Linked DNA regions of Homo sapiens: all the other regions are reported to be linked to region 1. Evidence: microRNA targets listed by miRTarBase, many of them from high-throughput screens and not tested one by one. Region 1 holds a microRNA gene; each other region holds the end of a gene's coding sequence.
What was found. The annotated mature microRNA hsa-miR-6893-5p reads CAGGCAGGUGUAGGGUGGAGC and lies in region 1 at 1,544-1,564, shown strand. An mRNA with a match to its seed (bases 2 to 7 or 8) in the 3' UTR can be bound and repressed. Matches are read on the target gene's strand: a 7mer-m8 pairs with bases 2 to 8, a 7mer-A1 pairs with bases 2 to 7 and ends in A, and an 8mer does both.

Region 2: the mRNA of POLR2F is a reported target of hsa-miR-6893-5p. Seed matches in the 3' UTR shown: 8mer at 2,670-2,677.
Region 3: the mRNA of IL17RB is a reported target of hsa-miR-6893-5p. The part of its 3' UTR that is shown has no 7-base or 8-base seed match.

The regions. Positions count from the first base shown.
Region 1 is chr8:144,433,010-144,437,157 of GRCh38, reverse strand. MIR6893 (microRNA 6893) reads left to right here and starts at 1,539; the gene lies at 1,539-1,607. TONSL (tonsoku like, DNA repair protein) reads left to right here. Exons shown (of 26, transcript NM_013432.5): 14 at 59-131; 15 at 238-401; 16 at 477-600; 17 at 740-1,500; 18 at 1,608-1,684; 19 at 1,988-2,141; 20 at 2,269-2,347; 21 at 2,879-3,180; 22 at 3,399-3,570. It overlaps TONSL-AS1 (TONSL antisense RNA 1), which reads right to left and starts at 1,990. Exons shown (of 6, transcript NR_109770.1): 1 at 1,718-1,990; 2 at 163-407.
Region 2 is chr22:37,966,989-37,970,988 of GRCh38, reverse strand. It overlaps POLR2F (RNA polymerase II, I and III subunit F), which reads right to left. Exons shown (of 5, transcript NM_021974.5): 4 at 3,819-3,890; 5 at 1,677-3,364. The coding sequence ends at 3,274. MIR6820 (microRNA 6820) reads right to left here and starts at 3,426; the gene lies at 3,365-3,426. RefSeq lists enhancers at 2,173-2,467, 2,850-3,350.
Region 3 is chr3:53,864,996-53,868,995 of GRCh38, forward strand. IL17RB (interleukin 17 receptor B) reads left to right here. Exons shown (of 11, transcript NM_018725.4): 11 at 1-799. The coding sequence ends at 313. ACTR8 (actin related protein 8) reads right to left here. Exons shown (of 13, transcript NM_022899.5): 13 at 2,071-3,867. The coding sequence ends at 3,724. Among named protein-coding and RNA genes, the nearest start is that of ACTR8, 15 kb to the right of the region's middle.

The DNA.
Region 1 (4,148 bases):
GGCTGGGGCCAGGCTGTGAGGTACACAGGGCCAGGCTCCTTCCTGTCCTTGGTCACAGGGCCACCCCCTTAACCCTCGGGACTACTGTGGCTGGACACCTCTGCACGAGGCCTGCAACTACGGGCATCTAGGTGAGCAAGGGACAGAAGGAGCCTGGCGCACCTTGGTGGACACGTGGGGCGAAGAGTCAGTCCTGGCGGGGCATCGGGAGCTGGGCTTACGTCTCCTGGTCTGCAGAAATTGTCCGCTTCCTGCTGGACCACGGGGCCGCAGTGGACGACCCAGGTGGCCAGGGCTGCGAAGGCATCACCCCCCTCCACGATGCCCTCAACTGTGGCCACTTCGAGGTGGCTGAGCTGCTGCTTGAACGGGGGGCGTCCGTCACCCTCCGCACTCGAAAGGTGAGCCTGGTGGGGCAGAGGGCAAGGGCGAGGTTATGGGGGCTGCTGTGCCCCTGCTCAACTGATGCCACACAGGGCCTCAGCCCGCTGGAGACGCTGCAGCAGTGGGTGAAGCTGTACCGCAGGGACCTGGACCTGGAGACGCGGCAGAAGGCCAGGGCCATGGAGATGCTGCTCCAGGCGGCTGCCTCGGGCCAAGGCAAGCAGGGCGTCCCTTGTCCCTGGGGTTGCTGTGCCTACGCTGAGAGTCCCCGGGCCCTGATTTCGGGAGATGCTCCATCACAGGTGGAGCGGGAGGTGCCGGGCCCCTGCCTCAACACGCATTCTCTCTCCCACAGATCCCCACAGCTCCCAGGCCTTCCACACCCCAAGCAGCCTTCTGTTTGACCCCGAGACCTCTCCTCCTTTGAGCCCCTGCCCAGAACCCCCCTCTAATAGCACTAGACTCCCAGAGGCCTCTCAGGCCCATGTCAGGGTCTCCCCAGGGCAGGCGGCACCAGCCATGGCCAGGCCTCGGAGGAGCAGGCATGGGCCAGCCAGCAGCAGCAGCAGCTCAGAAGGCGAGGACAGCGCAGGCCCCGCACGGCCGTCCCAGAAGAGGCCTCGGTGCTCGGCCACAGCACAACGGGTGGCAGCCTGGACGCCTGGCCCCGCCAGCAACAGGGAAGCAGCCACAGCCAGCACCAGCCGGGCAGCCTACCAGGCAGCCATCCGGGGTGTGGGCAGTGCTCAGAGCCGGCTGGGGCCTGGCCCACCGCGGGGCCACAGCAAAGCCCTTGCCCCCCAGGCAGCGCTCATCCCGGAGGAGGAGTGCCTGGCCGGGGACTGGCTGGAGCTGGACATGCCCCTGACCCGCAGCCGCCGGCCCCGCCCCCGGGGCACTGGAGACAACCGCAGGCCCAGTAGTACCTCTGGGTCGGACAGTGAGGAGAGCAGGCCCCGTGCCCGAGCCAAGCAGGTCCGCCTGACCTGCATGCAGAGTTGCAGTGCGCCAGTTAACGCAGGGCCCAGCAGCCTGGCTTCAGAACCTCCAGGGAGCCCCAGCACCCCCAGGGTCTCAGAGCCCAGTGGGGACAGCTCTGCGGCAGGCCAGCCCTTGGTGGGTATGCAGACCTGGAGCAGAGCCCTCTCCCCACTCCGGGCAGGCAGGTGTAGGGTGGAGCCCACTGTGGCTCCTGACTCAGCCCTGCTGCCTTCACCTGCCAGGGTCCGGCCCCGCCCCCTCCCATCCGGGTTCGAGTTCAAGTTCAGGATCATCTCTTCCTCATCCCTGTCCCACACAGGTGAGGCATCGCCTGCCCTACCCCGCAGCCCACCTGTGCAGCTCCATGCCAGGGTGCTCGTGTTTGCATGTCAGGGTGGGGCGTGTGACGAGGGCTCCCTGGTGTGTTCCAGGAGGATCCTGTGGCCCCCAGGAATAGCAGAGGGGCTGGTGGTGTGCTGGGCTGCAGGGAGAGGAGGGGCCGGCTACCTGGGAATGGGAGAAGCAGCTGAGGGGGCTTCTGGCCCTGGGCAGGGATGGCGGGTCCCTGGGGCATTACCCCGGCTGTGTGCAGGCAGCAGCAGCAGCGCCTCTGTCCCTGCAGCAGTGACACCCACTCTGTGGCCTGGCTGGCCGAGCAGGCGGCCCAGCGCTACTACCAGACCTGCGGGCTGCTGCCCAGGCTCACCCTACGGAAAGAGGGGGCCCTGCTGGCCCCACAGGACCTCATCCCTGATGTGCTGCAGAGCAATGACGAGGTGAGCCGCAGAGCGGAGGGGGAGCCAGGGCCTCAGGCACCGGGAGCCCCCGGGTGGCTCATGGCTGCAGAGCAATGATGAGGTGAGCCGGGGGAGCCCCCAGGTGGCTCATGACGGTGCCTTCCAGGTGTTGGCTGAGGTGACTTCGTGGGACCTGCCCCCGTTGACTGACCGCTACCGCAGGGCCTGCCAGAGCCTGGGGCAAGGTGAGGGCCAGGAGAGCTGCAGTTTCTGGGTGAGGTCGTACAAGGGGGTTGGGCACACAGGCTCCACCAGCCCGGTTCATTCCTGGGCCTCGGGTGTTTTGGGGTGCACCTCCCCCAGCCTGGTGGGTGCTGTGTCCTGCACTTGGATGTGTGGGTGGAAGGGAGAGGACAGCCCTCAGCCCCCATGATCTGCTGACAGGGAGATGGCAAAAAGCAGCCGAAAGCCTGGAAAGTCAAACCCAAGGAGGAGGGCCTGGCATGGGCTGGGAGCTGCTGGGGAAGCTTCCCAGAAAGCTTGTCCCGGGGGGTGTGGAATCTGGCAGTGACTGGTGGAGCTCAGGGTGCTGCAGACCCACCCCGGCCCCCAGGGCCTCACAGTGCTAGACCCACAGGCATGTGCGAGTGGGCTCTACAGCAAGTCTGGTGGGTGACCCCTGGGGCTGTTGAAAAGGGGCTGCCTGGTTTGCCCTCTGGGATTCAGAGGGCAGAAAGGGCCGGCCTTACCCTGGTGACATCACATCCCTCCCGCAGGGGAGCACCAACAGGTGCTGCAGGCCGTGGAGCTCCAGGGCTTGGGCCTCTCGTTCAGCGCCTGCTCCCTGGCCCTGGACCAGGCCCAGCTTACACCCCTGCTGCGGGCCCTCAAGCTGCACACAGCACTCCGGGAGCTGCGCCTGGCAGGGAACCGGCTGGGGGACAAGTGTGTGGCTGAGCTGGTGGCTGCCCTGGGCACCATGCCCAGCCTGGCCCTCCTTGACCTCTCCTCCAATCACCTGGGTCCCGAAGGCCTGCGCCAGCTTGCCATGGGGCTCCCAGGCCAAGCCACCTTGCAGGTATAGGCACAGAGAGCAGCAGGCCCTCAACAGCGGGGAGTTGGGGTTCCCATTCTGCAGGTCCCTGGGTGGTCTAGGGTAGTTGGGAGAGCCAGCCAGTGCCCGGCTGTAATAGGCTATGCCAGGCAAGGTGGGGAAGAGACTGCCAAGCCAAGCCCCAAGGGGGACCCTGTCCGTGGGACTGCTGGGGGCTCACTGCCAGCCTGTGTCTTCCACAGAGTTTGGAGGAGCTGGACTTAAGCATGAACCCCCTGGGGGACGGCTGTGGCCAGTCCCTGGCCTCCCTCCTGCACGCCTGCCCCTTACTCAGCACCCTGCGCCTGCAGGCGTGTGGCTTCGGCCCCAGCTTCTTTCTGAGCCACCAGACAGCACTGGGTAGTGCTTTCCAAGGTGAGCTGACCAGGCACTCCCTGTCCACTCCCTAGCCCTGGGGCATTGAGGGTTTCCAGGACTTTCAGAGGGGGCCCAGGCTGGGCACACAGGGGCAACACCTGTGGTCCCAGCTACTTGAGAGGCTGAGGCGGGAGTATCGCTTGAGCCAAGAGTTCCAGGAAAGCCTGGCCCACATAGTGAGACCCCATCCCTTAAGAAAAAAGCGTCTAGGCCGGGCGCAGTGGCTCACGCCTGTAATCCCAGCACTTTGGGAGGCCAAGGCGGGCAGATCACGAGGTCAGGATATCGAGACCATCCTGGCTAACACGGTGAAACGCCGTCTCTATTAAAAATACAATTAGCTGGGCGTGGTGGCCGGTGCCTGTAGTCCCAGCTACGCAGGAGGCTGAGGCAGGAGAATGGCATGAACCCGGGAAGCGGAGCTTGCAGTGAGCCGAGATCGCGCCGTTGCACTCCAGCCTGGGCGACAGAGCAAGACTCCGTGTCAAAAAAACGAAACAAACAACGTCTAGGGGCCTGGGATGCCAGACCTGGCTCTCCGGGAGGGCCTGGCACCTGGGAGCAATAGATGGATG
Region 2 (4,000 bases), not on the chromosome of region 1:
GCTCTTCAAGCAACCTCCCCAAAACTGCTGGTTCCCGTGAAGCTGGATGGTAACCGAAACCCCGATCTTTTAGACAATATCCATTGCAAAGTCATATCCAAATTGTATGTATGCTGTTTTTGTTTTGTTTTAGATAAAAGCAGGACTTTACACTGATCTTTAACAGATCTCACCTTGTTGGGTTTGACCCATTTCCCCACCTGTATTAAACTTTTTAGAACTTAGCTCTCCTTTAGAGCTTTATGTATCTGCAAACTTGAATAGCCTCATTCAAGTCACTAATAAAGGTCGAAATGAAGAGGGACACCTGTGTACAGCATTAAACGCCTCTCTCCACTGTCAGTCCTATTATCTCCACTCTTTTTTTTTTTTTTTTTTTTTTTTAGATGGAGTCTTGCTCTGTTGCCAGGCTGGAGTGCAATGTTGCAATCTTGGCTCCCTGCAACTTCTGTCTCCTGGGTTCAAGTGCTTCCCCTGCCTCAGCCTCCCGAGTAGCTGGGACTACAGGTGTGCACCACCACGCCCAGCTAATTTTTTTTTTTTTTTTTTAAGTAGAGACAGGGTTTCACCATGTTGTCTAGGATGGTCTCAATCTCCTGACCTCATGATCCGCTTGCCTCGGCCTCCTAAAGTGCTGGGATTACAGGCGTAAGCCACCGCACCTGGCCTATTATCTCCACTCTTTTTTTTTTTTTGAGACGGAGTCTCTCTCTGTCGCCCAGGCTGGAGTGCAGTAGCGGGATCTCGGCTCACTGCAAGCTCCGCCTCCCGGGTTCACGCCATTCTCCCGCCTCAGCCTCCCGAGTAGCTGGGATTACAGGCGCCCGCCACCACACCTGGCTAATTTTTTGTATTTTTTAGTACAGACGGGGTTTCACTGTGTTAGCCAGGATGGTCTTGATCTCCTGACCTCGTGATCTGCCAACCTCAGCCTCCCAAAGTGCTGGGATTACAGGTGTGAGCCACCACGCCCAGCTATTATCTCCACTCTTGAGGCTGTCTAATCAGTTCTAAAACTGTCTAATTACATCACCATGAAGCACACACTTCTCTGTCACAGTGGCATGGAGACTACTGATGCCTTGTCAAAATCAAGATTCACTGATCTCTGGCATTCTCTCAACCTACTGGACCAGTAACCATCGAAAAAAAAACTTATTTGGCAATATTGGTTCTTAGACACCCTATGCTAGTGCCCGATCTCCTCTTTATTATATAAGCACTTTTAAACATGGAGGGACCTATTCTAGAATTTTGTCATGGATCAATCAGTACTAACCTTATGTGTTTATAATCTTTACAACCCACCCTTTCCCCTTCATTGAAAGGCAGGACTTTTGTCCATTTGTGGTCTGTTCACTACTCCTGCTCGCCGTGGGATGAGGGATATGGAGCTGGCACAGTGGGGAGCAGGGGGCACATCCGGAAGATGACACTATCACCTCCAAGACCCCACATCTCATGAGAGTGAGTGGGAAATCACTGAGGATGTGGAAGGAGGGGAAATGACCCCAAGGAAGTCAGAAGACCTGGGTTGTGTGCATCCCTTAGACCAAAGGTTCCAAGTGTGCACAGGCCTCAGGAAGGCAGGAGCTCCACTTGTTAAAAAAGGGTCAGGTGTTTCTGGAAATGACTCAAGAGACTATGCCCAAACCCTAAGAAAACAGAACCAATAGTGGTGACCGGGACATTTTATTCAAGAGAAGTCAAAAGCCAGGCCCAGACAGCTGAATAGCAGGGGACTCCCCAAAAGAGGAGAATGGGAAGAGGAAGACAGGAGGAAAAACACCCCTTCTGTCCCATTTCCCTTGCACTCTATCCCCTAAGGGTTAACCCCCAATTCCCCTCCTCCCCAGCCCAAACCCCATCTCCCTTTAATCACATCTGATACTGAGCAGCCCAGCAGGGAACAAAGAGACCATTTAGAGAAATGGGGCCGAGAAAGTGACCCCCGCACTCTGGGGCGGCTGCCTGGATGCCAGCACAAAGGCGGCATTTCAGAGCTGAAATTTCAGCACCCAACTTGATTAAAGGATTCCACAGGCTTGGAGGAGGGTGGATGGGAGTGTGAAGTCCACTGCTCCCTGAATTAACCCTTCTCCAGGGCAGCGGACACCCCTCCCACCAATGCAGATCCTCACCATTCACTCCCCACATCCCATCCCAGGGCCAGGCTGCACCTAGGCCTGGAGGCCCTGCCTCCTGCAGAGGTTAGGGAAGCCCAGCTCCTCCTCTTTGAAGGGGAGCTGGCAGTGGAATGGAGGTTAAGGCTGGCATATTCAGGGAGCCAGTTTACCCTCTATCCCTGTTCATGTCAATATACACCCTCCCCCTGACCCCCTCTAGGAGGGAGGAGCCAGTGTGACTGGTCTTACCTCAGGTTGGGTAAGCAGGGTGGAGAAAGGAAGAGGACCCATTAGAACCTCAGGCAGAGGAAGGGGGAACTCCAGCTCTGACTTAATGTAACACCTGGAACCCAGGAGCACCACCACCCCAGCACCATGTCCCCAAGGCCTCAGGGGATCACCAGCCCCAAATAGGAGGGAAAGGATATCTTATAGAGGCTAGGAAGAAGGCATGGGTGTGGCACACCAAAGAGGTGGGCCACAGAGGACAGCGTGTGGGCAGAGTCCTGAGGAGGAGTGGGGACAGAGCCATGGGGGCAGGGGTAGGCAGGTGCTCGGTCCTTGCTCCAGCTGCTGACTTGCCCAGCAGGGCTCTGCCTGGGGAGGGTGGGAGATCAGCACACCCCCACGCTTCCTGCTGGGGCACTGCTCCTGAAAGGGGATCCGAGCCCACGATAAGAGGCTCGAAGCAGGTCCTTAGGAAACAATGGGTGGCTTGATGAGACCTGCTCTGTGATACTCCTGAGAAGGGAGAAGCCCCTGCAGCCAGTCCCCACTGGAAAGGAAATTGGGGGTTTCCGTGGCAACCAGCTCCCTGGGCACAAAGACTTGTCTGTCTGCTTGGAAGGCAGCTGAGGTGTCTCCCCTGCAGCAGCCTTTGCTCTGGGGAACAGGGAGATGGAGGGAAGGATGTGGGGGATCCAAAGGGGCTAAGGGCCCCTGGTGCTTCTTAAGGAGCTGACAGTCACAGGGCCACTGGAATAGGTGCATGCTCCACGCAGCATGGCGGTAACGGGGAAGCAACAGGTGGTGACATTGCAGATAAGCAGAGGGGAAGGGGGTTGGAAAGTTGAATATTTTATTATTTACACATATAAAGTGAGAATGAAAATTGGGCATGGGGCAAGGGCAGGAAGATGACTCCAGCTCAGTCGGTGATGATGAGCTCGTCCACCCCCCAGTCTTCATAGCTCCCATCTGGCAGGTAACGGCGAATGATGATGGGGATCTTTCGGGCCCTGTGGCAGGGGAGAAGTCACAAGTACATGAGGGCTGGTGACCCCAGCTCTGCCGCAGAAGGAACAGATTGTGTGCAAAACACAAGCAAAGAGAAGTCTTAGGAGCAGCCTCTTGGGGCTGATGAGTGTACTTTGTAAGAAAGCAATTACAAGAAAAAGAAAGTTTTTATATCAGACAAGAGGGGGAAGAATGACAGAATATTGGTAAGGCCTCCTGCAGCAGGAACAGGGAAATTCCAACAGCCAGAAGACGTCCATGTCTCATCAGTGCCCTCCCACTTTCCCTGCCTCCTCTTCTCTCTTCCTCCTACTTCCTGGTGAGCTGTTCCTAAGGATCTGTAGGAATAAGCATCAACTTCTCCAGCCAGGCAAGTGGGAGCAAAGGGTGCAACAGAGAGCCCAACAGATGCCTCCCAGAGATTTGGAGAAGTGAACCATGATTTGAGTGACTTACTTGAGTTCCTTCATGGCAATGAGCAGAGGATCTGTCTCCCCCTCCAGCTCCACCATCACAGGGGCACACATCCTGTAGGGATAGGGACAGGTGTTAGGGAGACTACAAACCCAGGGAGAAGGGCCCAACAGGCAGTGAGGGTGGAACGGCATCCTGGTCCCCACCTAGAAACGTCATCTTCT
Region 3 (4,000 bases), not on the chromosome of region 1:
CGTCAACAGTGTGTGCGATGGTACCTGTGGCAAGAGCGAGGGCAGTCCCAGTGAGAACTCTCAAGACCTCTTCCCCCTTGCCTTTAACCTTTTCTGCAGTGATCTAAGAAGCCAGATTCATCTGCACAAATACGTGGTGGTCTACTTTAGAGAGATTGATACAAAAGACGATTACAATGCTCTCAGTGTCTGCCCCAAGTACCACCTCATGAAGGATGCCACTGCTTTCTGTGCAGAACTTCTCCATGTCAAGCAGCAGGTGTCAGCAGGAAAAAGATCACAAGCCTGCCACGATGGCTGCTGCTCCTTGTAGCCCACCCATGAGAAGCAAGAGACCTTAAAGGCTTCCTATCCCACCAATTACAGGGAAAAAACGTGTGATGATCCTGAAGCTTACTATGCAGCCTACAAACAGCCTTAGTAATTAAAACATTTTATACCAATAAAATTTTCAAATATTGCTAACTAATGTAGCATTAACTAACGATTGGAAACTACATTTACAACTTCAAAGCTGTTTTATACATAGAAATCAATTACAGTTTTAATTGAAAACTATAACCATTTTGATAATGCAACAATAAAGCATCTTCAGCCAAACATCTAGTCTTCCATAGACCATGCATTGCAGTGTACCCAGAACTGTTTAGCTAATATTCTATGTTTAATTAATGAATACTAACTCTAAGAACCCCTCACTGATTCACTCAATAGCATCTTAAGTGAAAAACCTTCTATTACATGCAAAAAATCATTGTTTTTAAGATAACAAAAGTAGGGAATAAACAAGCTGAACCCACTTTTACTGGACCAAATGATCTATTATATGTGTAACCACTTGTATGATTTGGTATTTGCATAAGACCTTCCCTCTACAAACTAGATTCATATCTTGATTCTTGTACAGGTGCCTTTTAACATGAACAACAAAATACCCACAAACTTGTCTACTTTTGCCTAAAGTTACCTATTAGAGGTCACTGTCAGAGTTCTCAGTTTCTTAGTTACTATTTAACTTTTCATGTTCAAAATGAAAATAATTCTTAAGTTGAAAGCCCTCTTGAAGTAACCTTTTTATAAATGAGTTATTATAATGGTTTACTTAAATAAAAAACAGGGGTGGGTGCAGTGGCTCATGCCTCCAATCCCAGCACTTTGGCAAGGCCAAGGCAAAAGGATCGCTCAAGACCAGGCTACGTCACAAAGCGAGACCTCCATCTCTACAAAAGATTTAAAAAATTAGCTGAGTGTGATGGTGTAAGCCTGTGGTCCCAGCTACTAGGGAGGCTGAGATGGGAGGATCACTTGAGCCCTGGAGGTCAAGGGTGCAGTAAACGGTGATTGTGCCACTGCACTCCATCCTGGGTGAGAGCAGACCCTGTCTAAAACAAACAAACGAAAAAACCCCCACAGAATGACAGAACATAAAAGATGCACATTTTGTCTTCCAACTTTTTACTCTTCTAAAAGCATCTTTTTTAAATTTTTTAAATTTTTTTTTTTTGAGACAGAGTTTCACTCTGTCACCCAGGCTGGAGTGCAGTGGCGTGACCTCGGCTCACTACAACCTCTGCCTTCCGGGTTCACGCCATTCTCCTGCCTCAGCCTCCTGAGTAGCTGGGACTACAGGCACCCACCACCACACCCAGCTAACTTTTTATATTTTTAGTAGAGACGGGGTTTCACCCTGTTAGCCAGGATGGTCTTGATCTCCTGACCTCATGATCCACCCACCTCAGCCTCTCAAAGTGCAGGGATTACAGGTGTGAGCCACGGCGCCTGGCCTAAAAGCATCTTTTTCTTTAATGCAGAGGTTATGTTGTATTATTAGCATAAATGTTTTTTTTCTGGGAATGCTTATTTCACACAGCACAATACTGAATCTTCTCTGGAATGTGGATCGATTTCAGATGGATGACTATTAAAATGTGTATATTTGCAGATTATCCTTAAAGGGCCACCTCATGCCTTCTAATTTATGTCTTACGGATAAAAAATCAAAATGAAGCATAAAGTAAAAACTGTGTCCAGCTTTACAAGTGGACGCTTAGTAATGGCTGAGGCAATATGTTTAATGTAGCAAATTTTACTTATTTGTCATGATCAGTTTTCACAGTGCTTGTAAGTGCTGGTAATAGAAGATGGACATGGTTTAGGTCAAAACTTGGACCAGAAACCAACTTCCTTTGAAACAGCTCTACCAGTTATAAGAGCAATATGCTGTTAGGTGAAGAACTGTTTAACAGAAATATATTATGTTTTTGCAAACAGGCAGCTGATCCAAAATTGTGTTGAAACACCTCAGAAACATAAATGACATCAATACTCTATAAATTAATGCTGTTAACAAATTTAAAAAATAAAACATACAATTTTCAAATTGAAGGCACACATCCCAGTTGGTACTGGCAAGTTTAAATTGTTTCTAATACTGGTGGACTCTTCATTTGTAACCTACTGAGCAGTTACAGAGGGTACTCCCATTGATACAAAATGCTCAGGTACCGGCATTTCTCCACATCCAGAGTTCTTTCTATATTCCCTTCTGATTTCCATCACTTATCTGTTCCCTGCTTTTGTCCTTCCCCAGTCTCACCCCCATCTCTAGCCATGGTAAGTGAGATGGCGGAAGCAGGTGCCTAGAAGCAAGCAGCAGGAAGCAGCATTTTCCCACTCCTCCCAGAGCTCTGGGCTCCCAGACTGTGTTCCTACCTCTGGACAATGCTTTCTCTTCCTCCTGGGCTCAGAGGGCTTCACCAGAGCCTGGACCACCAGTGGTAATAGCTGCATTATTTAGATTTTGCTTCAGGATGCTCAGAGGTTAAGGTTAACTGATCATACTGAACATCATGAACTCCAAAAGCTTTCACTTAATCCTTCAGGTAAAGGAAAATTGAGGCTTGATGACTAAGTTGGTAGTATTAATAACTACATCAGTCACCATATCTGTACAACACAAGGACTCTTAAATTATACCCAAATCATTTCTATTTGGCTTTAGGAAAAAAACAAGATTTCCTTTTCAGCATTTGTTCTGTTTTGGCCAAATAAAAATTGTTTTCTTTCTTCCTCTAAGCTCACCCTACGGCATGTCAGGTAACAAAAGCCAGTCTGCCCAGCCTTCCATCTTTACCTTTGGAAATCGAGACCTGAATGGGTCCCATTCTTTTTCTGTAATCCAACAGAAAATGAAAAAAAAAACAAAAACCACCAAAACTTTTTCCCCCTATTTGGGATTCTAAGAGGACACATGAGTCACATAAGTGCATTTAACTCAGACAACTTTAGATCCTAATGAAATACTAGACAAGAGAGAAAATGGCATGAGTGGACAGTTCTCCCTCGTCACATACTATCCCTCATGGTTGCATGAGGCTGCCTGCTGATGAGATTCAAGCCAACTTAAATGAAGGGCTTCACCACATGAGAACCTTCAATAGCAACGTTTACATCACTGGGGAGTTTATGAGACCCTGAGAGAGGGCAAGAGAGTTTACAACTGAAGAGAAAGTTCCTATTTATTCTCAAATGCCCTGACTAAACTGCTCAAAAGCAGTTTATATTTTCAAACCAATGTCATGTCCTCAACATAAAGTTCAAATTCATTTACTGTCCATGACACTTAAGCATCCAGATCAATAAATTACAATACACATATTCTGTAAGAGTCTTTTATACCAAGAAGCTTGTTTTTGGTCTTCGGCAGTGACATTTCCTCCCCATTCACCACACAAACGCAGCCCGCTCTCGTAACATGCGGACACCAAAGCGCTGCCACTCTCGCTGATAAATCCACAGTTCCTGTGTTGTATCCAAACAAGCCAACACTGCCCCTCCTTTCCATGCAATCAGCCGGGGGTCCATGTCCTACAGAAGGGATGAAGGCATTTCAGCCTAATCACATAAGACATATACTCAATCATTTACTTGAATATGGGGCCGAGAAAAATCCCTGCTGAGTCAATACCTAGTAAGCCAGGCTTTCACCCTGTATTAAAGA